4 separate regions of the Homo sapiens genome follow, and regions 1, 2 and 4 are each reported to be linked to region 3. Evidence: microRNA targets listed by miRTarBase, many of them from high-throughput screens and not tested one by one. Region 3 holds a microRNA gene; each other region holds the end of a gene's coding sequence.
What was found. Region 3 holds the annotated microRNA hsa-miR-199b-3p (ACAGUAGUCUGCACAUUGGUUA, at 996-1,017, shown strand). A microRNA usually pairs through its seed, bases 2 to 8, with sites in the 3' UTR of a target mRNA and lowers its output. Matches are read on the target gene's strand: a 7mer-m8 pairs with bases 2 to 8, a 7mer-A1 pairs with bases 2 to 7 and ends in A, and an 8mer does both.

Region 1: miRTarBase lists DDIT4 as a target of hsa-miR-199b-3p. Seed matches in the 3' UTR shown: 8mer at 838-845.
Region 2: miRTarBase lists PAQR5 as a target of hsa-miR-199b-3p. Seed matches in the 3' UTR shown: 7mer-m8 at 1,069-1,075.
Region 4: miRTarBase lists LIN54 as a target of hsa-miR-199b-3p. The part of its 3' UTR that is shown has no 7-base or 8-base seed match.

The regions. Positions count from the first base shown.
Region 1 is chr10:72,274,858-72,277,857 of GRCh38, forward strand. DDIT4 (DNA damage inducible transcript 4) reads left to right here. Exons shown (of 3, transcript NM_019058.4): 3 at 1-1,179. The coding sequence ends at 331. Among named protein-coding and RNA genes, the nearest start is that of DDIT4, 2.4 kb to the left of the region's middle. RefSeq lists an enhancer at 710-1,233.
Region 2 is chr15:69,403,369-69,406,368 of GRCh38, reverse strand. It overlaps PAQR5 (progestin and adipoQ receptor family member 5), which reads right to left. Exons shown (of 9, transcript NM_017705.4): 9 at 1-2,788. The coding sequence ends at 2,547. All of the region lies in intron 1 of KIF23-AS1 (KIF23 and PAQR5 antisense RNA 1), which reads left to right. Among named protein-coding and RNA genes, the nearest start is that of KIF23, 9.5 kb to the left of the region's middle.
Region 3 is chr19:10,815,298-10,818,445 of GRCh38, reverse strand. MIR199A1 (microRNA 199a-1) reads left to right here and starts at 950; the gene lies at 950-1,020. All of the region lies in intron 15 of DNM2 (dynamin 2), which reads right to left.
Region 4 is chr4:82,925,529-82,928,528 of GRCh38, forward strand. It overlaps LIN54 (lin-54 DREAM MuvB core complex component), which reads right to left. Exons shown (of 13, transcript NM_194282.4): 13 at 1-2,775. The coding sequence ends at 2,574. Among named protein-coding and RNA genes, the nearest start is that of THAP9-AS1, 26 kb to the left of the region's middle.

The DNA of each region.
Region 1 (3,000 bases), not on the chromosome of region 3:
GGTAAGCCAGGTGGGCAAAGAACTACTGCGCCTGGCCTACAGCGAGCCGTGCGGCCTGCGGGGGGCGCTGCTGGACGTCTGCGTGGAGCAGGGCAAGAGCTGCCACAGCGTGGGCCAGCTGGCACTCGACCCCAGCCTGGTGCCCACCTTCCAGCTGACCCTCGTGCTGCGCCTGGACTCACGACTCTGGCCCAAGATCCAGGGGCTGTTTAGCTCCGCCAACTCTCCCTTCCTCCCTGGCTTCAGCCAGTCCCTGACGCTGAGCACTGGCTTCCGAGTCATCAAGAAGAAGCTGTACAGCTCGGAACAGCTGCTCATTGAGGAGTGTTGAACTTCAACCTGAGGGGGCCGACAGTGCCCTCCAAGACAGAGACGACTGAACTTTTGGGGTGGAGACTAGAGGCAGGAGCTGAGGGACTGATTCCTGTGGTTGGAAAACTGAGGCAGCCACCTAAGGTGGAGGTGGGGGAATAGTGTTTCCCAGGAAGCTCATTGAGTTGTGTGCGGGTGGCTGTGCATTGGGGACACATACCCCTCAGTACTGTAGCATGAAACAAAGGCTTAGGGGCCAACAAGGCTTCCAGCTGGATGTGTGTGTAGCATGTACCTTATTATTTTTGTTACTGACAGTTAACAGTGGTGTGACATCCAGAGAGCAGCTGGGCTGCTCCCGCCCCAGCCCGGCCCAGGGTGAAGGAAGAGGCACGTGCTCCTCAGAGCAGCCGGAGGGAGGGGGGAGGTCGGAGGTCGTGGAGGTGGTTTGTGTATCTTACTGGTCTGAAGGGACCAAGTGTGTTTGTTGTTTGTTTTGTATCTTGTTTTTCTGATCGGAGCATCACTACTGACCTGTTGTAGGCAGCTATCTTACAGACGCATGAATGTAAGAGTAGGAAGGGGTGGGTGTCAGGGATCACTTGGGATCTTTGACACTTGAAAAATTACACCTGGCAGCTGCGTTTAAGCCTTCCCCCATCGTGTACTGCAGAGTTGAGCTGGCAGGGGAGGGGCTGAGAGGGTGGGGGCTGGAACCCCTCCCCGGGAGGAGTGCCATCTGGGTCTTCCATCTAGAACTGTTTACATGAAGATAAGATACTCACTGTTCATGAATACACTTGATGTTCAAGTATTAAGACCTATGCAATATTTTTTACTTTTCTAATAAACATGTTTGTTAAAACAGTTGGTTGAGTCTCTCATCAGTACCATGAAGTGAAAAGGAGGGAGATGGGTGCTAGTGAAAGGCAGGTCTCATCAGGCCCTGGGGTCCACCTGTGTGTTCCTCCATCCCTTTCCGGGACTGCCTGCCAGCCTGGTGACAGAGGTATGTGTACCGTGTGCCATCTGTGCCAAGAACCCTTGGCCCTGTGCTGGCTGAAGCTACTAGGAGAACACACTGGAAACCCCTGAAGGTAGGGGGTGAGTCAGACCTCCCACCGAGCCAGAGTCTCCAGAGGGAGAGCTCACCTGGCTGCCCCGGTTAGAAGGCCCAGACAGGAGGGCCCACTGAGCCCAAGGTCTTTAATAAACAGTGAAAGAACTAGAAAATACCTTTTTTCTTTCTGGGAGAAAAAAATCAGTTGTTCTACCATCATGAAAATTACAAATCTTATCTCTGGATTTAAAAAGACTAAGAGGGGGAGTTTGAAAAATGCTACTTAGCTCATGCCTCTCACTGGACAAGGAACCAAGAGGGGCATGAGCTGCCACTGGAAGGAAGTCTGGACCAGGCAGGTGCAGAACTCCTTGCACACACACAGGTGAGGGAAGGAGTGCTAAGGGCTTAGAGAGCAAGGAAATAGCAGGCCTACCTTAACGATACCTTGGGTCACCCAGACGTCCTCTGTGACCTGTTGTCCCAGCCACTTGGGATGCTGAAGCCAGAGGATTGCTTGAGTCCAGGAGTTCAAGGCTGCAGCCTGGGTGACAGCAAGACCCTGTCTCTAAAAACAAAAGATGCATTGTGCATTCTGGGCCCTAAGTTCCTTGTCAGAAAAATTGGCAAATTGGAGTTGGGCCAGATGAAGCCCAGGGCCTTTCCCCCTTCTTCCCTGGAATTACATCCACCCACACCAACTGGCATTTGGAGAGTTTTTATCTCCCTTGTTTCTCTTCCTGGTCCCAGACAGGCCTTGTTTGCTCAAGACTAAAACAGTGGCTCTTGCACTTGAGCGTGTGTAATCAGATCACATGGGCCCTCCTGGAGATTCTCAGTGCATCCGGGCCAGGGCCCCAGGAATCTGCATTTACATCAGGGATTCCAATAGAGGGTCCTAAACTTTACGATGACTTGGAAGACCCATCTCTCTTTGGTAGAACTGAGTGATTTGTTCCCCAAAATGGATAAACTTGGATTAGAAGTGCATTTGGAAATGGATAGTGAGAACAGTGAAGAAGGTGCCCAGACCAGTGTGAGGAAAGCCCTCACACCCATTTTCTTAGCACATCCTCCTAATAGCCACCCTGTGAGGGGTGGGTGGCGGCAGGGGTTTTTAATGTTTTACAGATTAGTAAATGGAGGCCCAAGCCCTGGAATGGTCATCTTCTTGGATAAGGGCTGACTTTGTCCACTCCCAGCCTATTGAGATTCAGGGCTGGGAGTAAAGCAAGCTTGACACCTGGGCTGAGTCTGAAGGGCACTTTCCCGGGAACTGAGATCTGTGCCAATGCTCACGACCCTGCCTCCCCAGTCTCAAAAGAGAAGCAAGGAAACAATTGTCTTCAGAGTACAGAGTCTTGTTGGTATTTGGGGGCCTGAGCTGGATGGATTGGTCAGCATTAGCCCTTCTCCAAGCCAAGGAGGCAGCTGAGCCCAGCACCGTACCTTTTCTTAGATAGTCAGACTGAGGCCAAATCAAAGCTTGGGTTCCCAAGCTAGCTCAGCTGAGATGCCCTCTCCCAGAGCCAAACTGGCTTCCCTCATTCTCACAGGGCCTGAAAATCCTCCTGCAGCAGGACAGAAGGGTCCGCAAGTGGGAGCCCTGAGCTTGAGTCTCACAGTAA
Region 2 (3,000 bases), not on the chromosome of region 3:
AATGGGTAAAGGGAGGTAAAGTTAACTGAATGGCCTTATTCATCATACACATTCAAGTTTTATCACAGTTGTAAGGTCTGGTAAATTTTTGAGTAGTGCTTCTCAAGCAAGGGGAGTGGGGAGAGGTACATCCCATTAGGAATGTGCCACCCTCCCCACCATAGTCTTTTTTGAGACAATGCCATGGTGAGCAATTGTTACCAATGGGAATGTGTCACATGTCTTAAATGTAGTGAGACACTTTTTAAAAATTAAGACCCACTCCAGTGAGGTCTTCAGCTGACCCCCTGCCAACCTTTTAGACTTTCTGAGATGGCTTGGATGAAATTATACTCACATTAGACATCTAATGCCTATTATTTAATACTTAATGATAATTAATATATTTGAACCCCTTCTCATTTTGCATAGGAAGCTTTCAAATCAGTGTTCTGCAAACTGTCGTAAAATTCTGATTTATAACACTGTCCCCAAAAGTATATAATGGGACTAAAGTTTACCAAACTTATAAAAATGTTATGAAACACTGGATCTTATTTTGTTGATTTAACATTTCATTTCCATCATTAAGCATGTGAAAAAGCAACATAAGCAAAGATTAAATAATCTAAAAATCCTTCAAATTGGTCACTCATTATTTCAGTACTTACTGAGCTAAACATTATTTTGTTACCTATAAAGGAGAGAATGTAAAACACTGTATGTCTTTGGCATTACTAGAAAGGGGTATTTAAACTTTGTACCTTTTTTTGCCATAAAATTGAAGTTACAGTAAGATGAAATGGAAGCTCACAAGCCCTGTTGGTGTGGAATTCCACTAATAATGTCAGATTGTTGCCAGAAAAACAAATTTTGTCATGCAGCTTGCAATTAATGTACCAAAAATTTACCAGCCCATATAATTTTATCAGTCTGCCTTCCCCAGAGGAAGTAAACAGATAATAAAACTAACGAAATCATATTTCTTGACCACTCTCATCCAATATAAATTGTTACTTGTCCTTCGAGTATTAGACAGTGAGCTGTTTACAAGGCCATTCAAATGTCTGGGCTAGTTAATGGTAGAGGCAGTAGTCTAAAATATGGAGTATTCCTGAGTCAGCAAAGAGGATCCTGCATTGTGAGGAAGCCCCCCTAAGTCATTACCAAGTGCAGATCTGGGTTTGATGGGCCTCTGTCAAAAGTTGTTTTGCATCCGCATTTCTGTGTTCCCTGAAAACACCATGAAATACTGAACTTTAATCAGTAATGCAACAAATGAGAAAATGCTCAGTGTTTTAGAACTATTCAGAGTAGAAAACGCTGGAACATAAAATGAGGTTACGCCTTAGTTGGTGAGTTGCTAAAACTTGAGATCAGGCGAAACAAAGCTGATAGGTCTAATGCCTTTTGGAACATGTAACACCAGCAGTTCTTCAAGTTTGGCCTCTGGCCCTCCTGTATTAGAATCATCTGGGAGACTTGCTCCAGTGCAGATCTCCTCTACAAAACCTACATTTAACCTAGTGAAGCAGAACCCCCTGGTTTTCCCTAGGAGTCTGCATTTGTCACAAGCTTACTGGATGTTTCTGATTCACAGTAAAGCTTGAGAACACTATATGTGACCACCCCACTGGCAAGGTGATTAACTTCTTATGCATATGGATACTAAATTTTGCAACATATTTGAAATGCTGAAGCAATATCAAATGTATGACATCCCCAAATATAGCAATTTCCATTGGTTTAAAAGGTGGCATATGAGCACAACCAATTGGGATTAACTCAGTCAACTCTTATGGTTTAACACATTTTACCTGCACTGAAAAATACTTTGCAGATCAAACTGGCAACCAGAAAACAGAACATAACAGAACACATGACACCCCGCTGTGGACTTTTAAGAAAAAAACTGACAAACTCCAAATCCATAATGACATGAGAACTTACACTTTGAAGGCAGAATGGACTTGTGGGAAGAGAGGACTCCCCTTCTGTTCTCCCTTCACTAGGTGGAGAAGGGAAGAAGGGCTCTCCCCAGACAGCTCTCTTCATTCTGGAATGTTTTGCCAGTCCCCAAGGCACTCAGTGACCAACTTTCTTTCACAGGTCCTCCCAGTGACTGACCTGGCTCATTCTCCGAAAGTGGTTGACAGGCCACTACGAGAGCTCTTGAGAGAAGCTTTGTGACATGAAATTCATCAAATGAAGCAAGATTCATTTTTAAAGAATAATACAAAGCTCCAGAGTAATATGCTTAATCCAAATGTTTAAATAGAATTTAAAACCACATTTTAAGTAAATTTAAAATTAATGAAATATCAATAGTTTGCCTTAACAAGGACTTGCTTGAACCATATTCTCCTTTTAAAATCACACACACAGAATCAGTGTACATTTAGAGAAATTTCCCCAGCTGAATAACATTTTTGACATGAATTCATTCAAAAGACACCAACCATTATGAATATTTTAGGCCATGATAAGCTGTAACCACCTCCGGCTTATGGTGGTTAGGATGTTGCAGCTTAATGTTGACATCTGGCATGAAAAGCTTATGGTCTGAGTCATGTTTCTTTTTTATGTAATTCTGGCTTGGGAATCCGATACAGAGCAGCTGAGAAATAAATTATGTTGCTGAGGCTGAAGATGATGCACAGAAGTATGGCTCCAGCTATCTGAGAGAAAGAGAAGGGCTTGGAGGTGGCCAGGAGCCATTCCTTCCTCAGAGTCTTGTCCAGAAGTATGGCTTCCATCTGCATGTGCGTGGCCAGGATCACACACACGTGAAACAGCTGGTGACTGTGACCTATGGCAAACACAAAAGGCCGTCAAGATCAGCAATGAAAAGGAATGAGTACTGATACATGCTATGGCATTCATGCTAAAAATGATGCTAAGTGAAAGAAACCAGACAGGAGACCACATATTATATAAAATCTCCAGAATATGCAAATCCATAAAGACAGAGAGTAGATTAGAGGCTGCCTCAAGCAGGGGGTGAGAATAGGTATTAACAGT
Region 3 (3,148 bases):
AGTTTCCTCATCTATCCAAGGAGGATGGAGGAGCTTGGTGCCCACTGCAGAGCTGGTGCCCATGAGCACCCGGGATTTTCTTTGGTTGCTCTTGTGAGCGGCTCCAGGATTAGCCTGCCAGGCTCTAGGCAAAGAAGTAGGGCAGAGCATAGGAAGAGGGGCCCGGTGGCCATGGAGGGAGCAGAGCATAGGAGAGGGGCCCGGTGGCCATGGAGGGAGCAGAGCATAGGAGAGGGGCCCGGTGGCCATGGAGGGAGGGATGCCGCTGCGGACCCAAGGGAGGGAAGGTGATGAAGAAAGCCTGCACCCGTCATCCCAGGCAAGGCTGGGTAACACAGGGCCTGGGTCCCTCCCACCTTTCGGGGAAGAGTTTTGGGGGCTTTAGAAGGGGCTAGGGGAGGGGGCTCTGCAGAAGCCCTGCCCCCGGCTCGGACGTTTGCCCAAGGGCCTTTGCTGCCCTGACCCTATCATATCACGCGGCCGGAAGCTTCCAGCCAGCAGGGCCAAGTAACTGAGTCACAGGCCATTCCAGCTAATGCCACATCTGGAACTGTTTACAGTGCGATTCCGCCGAGAAATCAGTGGCCGCCTTCCTGGTGCTGCCGGCACGCACGCGTGCGCGCGCGCGCACACACACACACACACGTGTGTGTGCGCCCCTCCTCCCCACCCCCGACCCCCAAAGAGTCAGACATTCCTCCTGAGCCCAGAAGCCACGATCCCAAACCCTGCCTCCTGCTCCGCCTCCCCCACTCTTTAGGATTTCCTGAAAACCCAGAACTTTCTCCAGATGCGAGCCGGCCCCAGCCTTGCCACGTCAGAAGGGACAGAGCGGATCGTCTCGGGAAGAGTGGTGGTTTCCTTGGCTGCTCAGAGGTGCTGAGGCACGGCCTGGCCTGGTGGCCCCAGCGTCTGCCTGGGGGGTTCTGCAGGATGGATAGCCGGCCCCGCCAACCCAGTGTTCAGACTACCTGTTCAGGAGGCTCTCAATGTGTACAGTAGTCTGCACATTGGTTAGGCTGGGCTTGGGTGAGCGGCTCGTCGAGACAGGCCCCCCAAACTCGCCGGCAGGTGAGTGTCATTTTCCACCACCCCGTTTCCCACTGTGGCAGAGCCTCGCATAGAAGATTCGAGGGCCTGGGTGGGAGAAGAGGCACTGGGGAAAGGCAGAGGGAGCCCCGAGGCCGGCCGAGGGGTTGGAGGCCCTGGCCCTATCAGTCTGCCATCCCCACCCCATGGCTGTAAATGTCTTGTTTATTTTTTAAATAAAGAGATATTGATGTCTTGTGTCTCACTGAGGCATCTAAGAGGGTGGCCTCCTCCTCAGGGGTGGCTGCCACGTGTGTGACTCCAAGGGTCCCTGCTGGGATCCTAACTTGGGTGGTGGCGGGGGTCAGGTTCCATGGCTGCCCCCTCCTGAATGGAGCCTGCTTTGTGTCTGGGGCTCACACAGGGCCCCTTTCACAGGTCGGCTGTTTCTCATTACGGCCGGCGCCCGGCCCTTCTCCCACTGCTGCTCCAGACTCCAGTGTGGGGCTCCACGGGAGGGTCGGGGGCTCTGGCTTTCAACTCTCAGATGAGAAAAACACGAAGGGCCCCTCACGTGAAGGAAGAGGAGATCTGAAAACTAGACTTGCAATGCTGCCAGGCAGAGAGCTGCCAGGCTGAGGTTCAGGCCCAGAGGCTCCTCCAAGGCTCGCTGCCCCAGGCCTGGCATTCCCACCCAGGGGACCCTGGAAGGTCCCCACAGCCCTGAACTGAAAGGCAGGGCACCAGCTCTCAGCCGGCCTGACAGCCCACACACCACAGCGCAGGCTGGTTTCTCACTGCAAGGCGGAAAGAGGGGAGAAAAAGAGAAAGGGCACCCTACCCCACCCCAGCCATTTTGAGGAGCCATCCGATCTGGACACGTGAGTTCCTAGAGGTGCCTGAGGCGGGGAGAAGGCTGCAGACCACGCCTGGCTCCACACTCCTCCCACATCCCAACCCCATGAGGTTCGCTGGATCTGAGGTTCTGGAAGCTTCCACAGGGACCCCAGAAATGCTTGTATGGTGGCTCAGCAGACTCCACCACCCTGGGTTTAGAAACAGCGCCCCAGAGTCCCGCAGAAGCCTCAGGGCTCCTGAGGTTTCAGGAACATTCCAGAGATGAGCGTCTGGCCTCATGTGGAGCGGGATGATCCTTTCACCCCCAATGTCCTCAGTCAAGGGGACATCAGGCCTGGGCTGCAGCGGAGGTGTTCGGATGTCGGGCTGGGGTGTCCCTCAGGTCAGGGAGCATGGGCCCGCAGACGTGCACTGGGGAAGCCTCCACCCCAGGGGGACCCTCCCCCGCTCCATGATGTGGGGCAAGTCACCGCTCAGAGCCTTAGATGGGGGTGACCACAGAGCCACCCGAATAGCAAGCGTGAGGGTTTCCTCACGGGGAGTAGGGTTCTCCTCAGGTGTGGCCTCAGTGGGCTCTCTTAGCCAATGAGCCCAGCACAGAGCAGGGGTCCATAGCCAAGAGGCCCGCCTCTCTTTGCTTCTCCCTGGGGCCAGCCGGGGCCCCCCAGCCTGCCTTCTCTCTAAGTCTGGGACTTCCAAGCCCAGTCCTGCCTATCCTGGGGCTGGGTTGGGTGCCAGCAAGTCCCCAGTGGGGGGCACTCCTACAGAGCATTCCCCCAAACCCAAGGGGAAGAGAGCCAGGCAGGGCGGCTCCAGGGGCCTCAGGCAACCCCAGCCTCTCCACTGAGGTTGCCTGGACTGAGTTGGTGGCTGTGCCATCCCAGGGACCATGGGGACTGGCCAGCTGGCCCTGCACCTGACACAGCCTCCAGCTCCTCCTCTGTGCACTGGGGGTAGGTGGGTAGGTTCCCTCCTACAGAGAGGAGCTGGGAGGACTTGATGCTGGTAGTTACCAGGACAAAACCTGGGACACATGCAGTGAGCCAGGCACAGTCCTGGGCTCAAGTACCAGAATTCCCCCACTGGTTCCCGCAGTCCAGAGGGGACAGGCCAGAGTCCTGACTTTATAGGTGGGGAGACGAGACACGAAGGGTTGACACCACCCAACCAATATCCTGGTGACTTCCGGGTGTCAAGCCCCAGCTGTCACGCTCAGAAACAACCAATATCCACTTCCTTCTTAGAAAGTGCTAGAACTGTT
Region 4 (3,000 bases), not on the chromosome of region 3:
AAAAGAGAAGACATATTCTCATTTCAAAGCAATTTATGTTAGTAATAACTGAGCAAAATGATAGAATTTTTTAGTTGTGTGTTTTCAGAAGTAATGTCAAATTTACTTCAGATAATTTAAAAGGTTTTTTGCATATTAAATGGTTAATAAAGTGGTGTTATTATACTAAAGAAAAAATGCAAAACCTTTTTTACAGAATAGTATAAATGTTTATTTTCTGTATGATTTACTTTGCTGTCCTGTTTTTACAATATAGAAAAGTGTATTCTTTGAATAGCTCTAGTAAATATAAATTTAATCTTTCTACTTTGGGATGTAAATAGAGCTAAAAAATTATATACCCAACCCTCCCCAAATAGTCTTTTAAAATCATTGAATTAATGTGGCTATTCATCTTGTTCAGCAATTTGATGCAAATGCCTGAATACAAAAAGTTATTTAGTAAGTACTACACAGGAAGGAAAAGGCTTAATATTTTAGATAGATAGATTTTTGAAAATCAGAAAAACTAGTAGCATTTGATTGCACCTTGAAATTTTTTTACAAGCAAAACATTCGTAAGCAATGCCATCATACATAATCTACAATTGTAATCAAAATTTCACGAACATTTTCTGCACACTGTATATAAATACACATCACAAAGGTGCAATTAGAATTAACACAGAGTATGTACAAAATGAACAAAGTTTAAGTTTAGACCAAAAACTTATTGCAATCTTTTGAAAAATAACTTGATTATTATTTTACCCTCTTACACTAATTTACATTTATACAAATTTTAATTAAACATACTAGATTGAGGTGCTAAGAATGTTTGAACTATCTACATTTAAAGTTACTGCACTATGATTTTATAAATCCAAATTTAAAAGGAAGATACTTTAGTGAATAACGGAATCCTCTTTTGGATTACTTAATTTCTATTGCCTATATCTTGCATGTTCATATGAACATATATACACACTTAATACATACAACTATAGAGTCCTTGTAGGAAATGAAATAATCATATACTAATTACTGATGATTAAGGTACCTAACAAAATGCCTGAATTCCAACATGGTTTTTTCTTGTCATAAAATCAAGAGTCCTGTCACAACAGGCTCTTAAATTCATAGAGTTTTTGAATACTGAAAATGATTTAGGTTATTTTAGTAATTATAGGAAAACAGACCTTCCAAATCACTGGCTGAAAATAATGCCATATTAAACTTCCCTTATAAAAAGAAATCCCACCACAATTTTGAAAATTTTGTTAGGAGGCCCATTTCTGTAAATCAAGTAAGAGTTGCGATTTGGTTTGAAACCTCTTAGTTCAAAAGTCTATAAAAAGGGCCTGGCACGGCGGCTTATGCCTGTAATCCCAGCACTTTGGGAGGCCGAGGCGGGCGAATCACGAGGTCAGGAGATCGAGACCATCCTGGCTAACACGGTGAAACCCCGTCTCTACTAAAAATACAAAAAATGAGCCGGGCATGGTGGCATGCACCTGTAGTCCCAGCTACACGGGAGGCTGAGGCAGGAGAATCGCTTGAACCTGGGAGGCAGAGGCGTTGCAGTGAGCTGAGATCTCACCATTGCACTCCAGCCTGGGCTACACAGCGAGACTCCGTCTCAAAAAAAAAAAAAAAAAAGTCTGTAAAAATAATTGATTGTATAGATGAAAACTTCTCTAAATTCATCTTTTGCAGCTTCCCTATTCTTTGTTTCTCCACCCATGCCAAATTTTATACTTGATTACTATGTGAGGTTCTATATTATCACTACATAATGTTTACTTCCATTTATATCCACCTATCATTTTAATAGTACCCAGTAATCACTTTGACAATTTATTACTTCAAATACATACCACCTCTTTGAAAGAAAATGGAGACAGCCCAGAGCATCTGTTAGCCTTTCCTTATTATAGAAACACATTGCCCATCCTCTGAGATTTACTGTCCTTTAATATTTTATATGTTTTTTTAAATAACTTTAAAAAATTTTTAGTGTGCCTGGGGATTGTTTCCCCTTCTGACATTCCCAAAGTGACAACAGGATATTATTCCAGAATCGGCCCTAAAAGGCTGCTTTTTCTTTAAAAGATAGTCCTTTTCTAAATACAAAATGTCATTTGAATGTGTTTCATAAGAATTTGTTTATGTAACATTCTGTCTGCAGATATTCTAGATCAAGTCCCAAAGAATGGGTGCTAACCACTGCTGCTTTGGCTTTTCTATTAACAAAGTCATACAACACCATACATTATAAATTATATGAATTTATAAACATTTTTTGTCAAAGGTATCAGAAAGAGAACATCTAATTCTTAAGAAACCCAAGCAAATTAAAAAATCTATATAATAAAGAAAAATTCAATTTAGAAGGGGCATAAGCAGATTTAACTAAGATTTAAAATGTACTAATTTCCTCATTTAAAATTTCTTCTCCTTCAGTATTATAATTTCAGGTCTTTTAAAACAAGGACTGAATTAAAATACAGTAATTGTTTTTCTTCCAGAAAATCAAGTGTCCCTGCACCTTAAATTTTCTGTACAGTTCCATTTATCAGTCTTTTGTGCAAGAGTTAGCAATTCATGGCACAAGGGTCACTTTTTGCCTTTCCTGCAGAGTTGATGACACTCATCAAACATCGTCCGAATTCCTCAAGTATCATCCGTTCCGCTGCTGCCTTTGATTTTCCCTTCTTGTCTGCCTGCTCTGCCTGGGCAAGGAGGCAATTACATGTGGCTTCAGCTACTTCCTTAGTTACAAATGTAAATGGCAATCTGAAATGATTTTTGAAAGAGAAAGATGATGGTGGTGTTAAATAACAACAAAAGTGGATAACATTCTTTCATCTGGAAATCTCTACTGACACTTTCACAATTCACCAGCAGGATGAGCATCACAATTTACACAGTGAGCACAAGCACATCCTAAAAAGGGCTTTAAAAAGTTAAATTTGGTTTTATTCACATATTGTAAGAATATTGTTCAGGAAATTTAACATA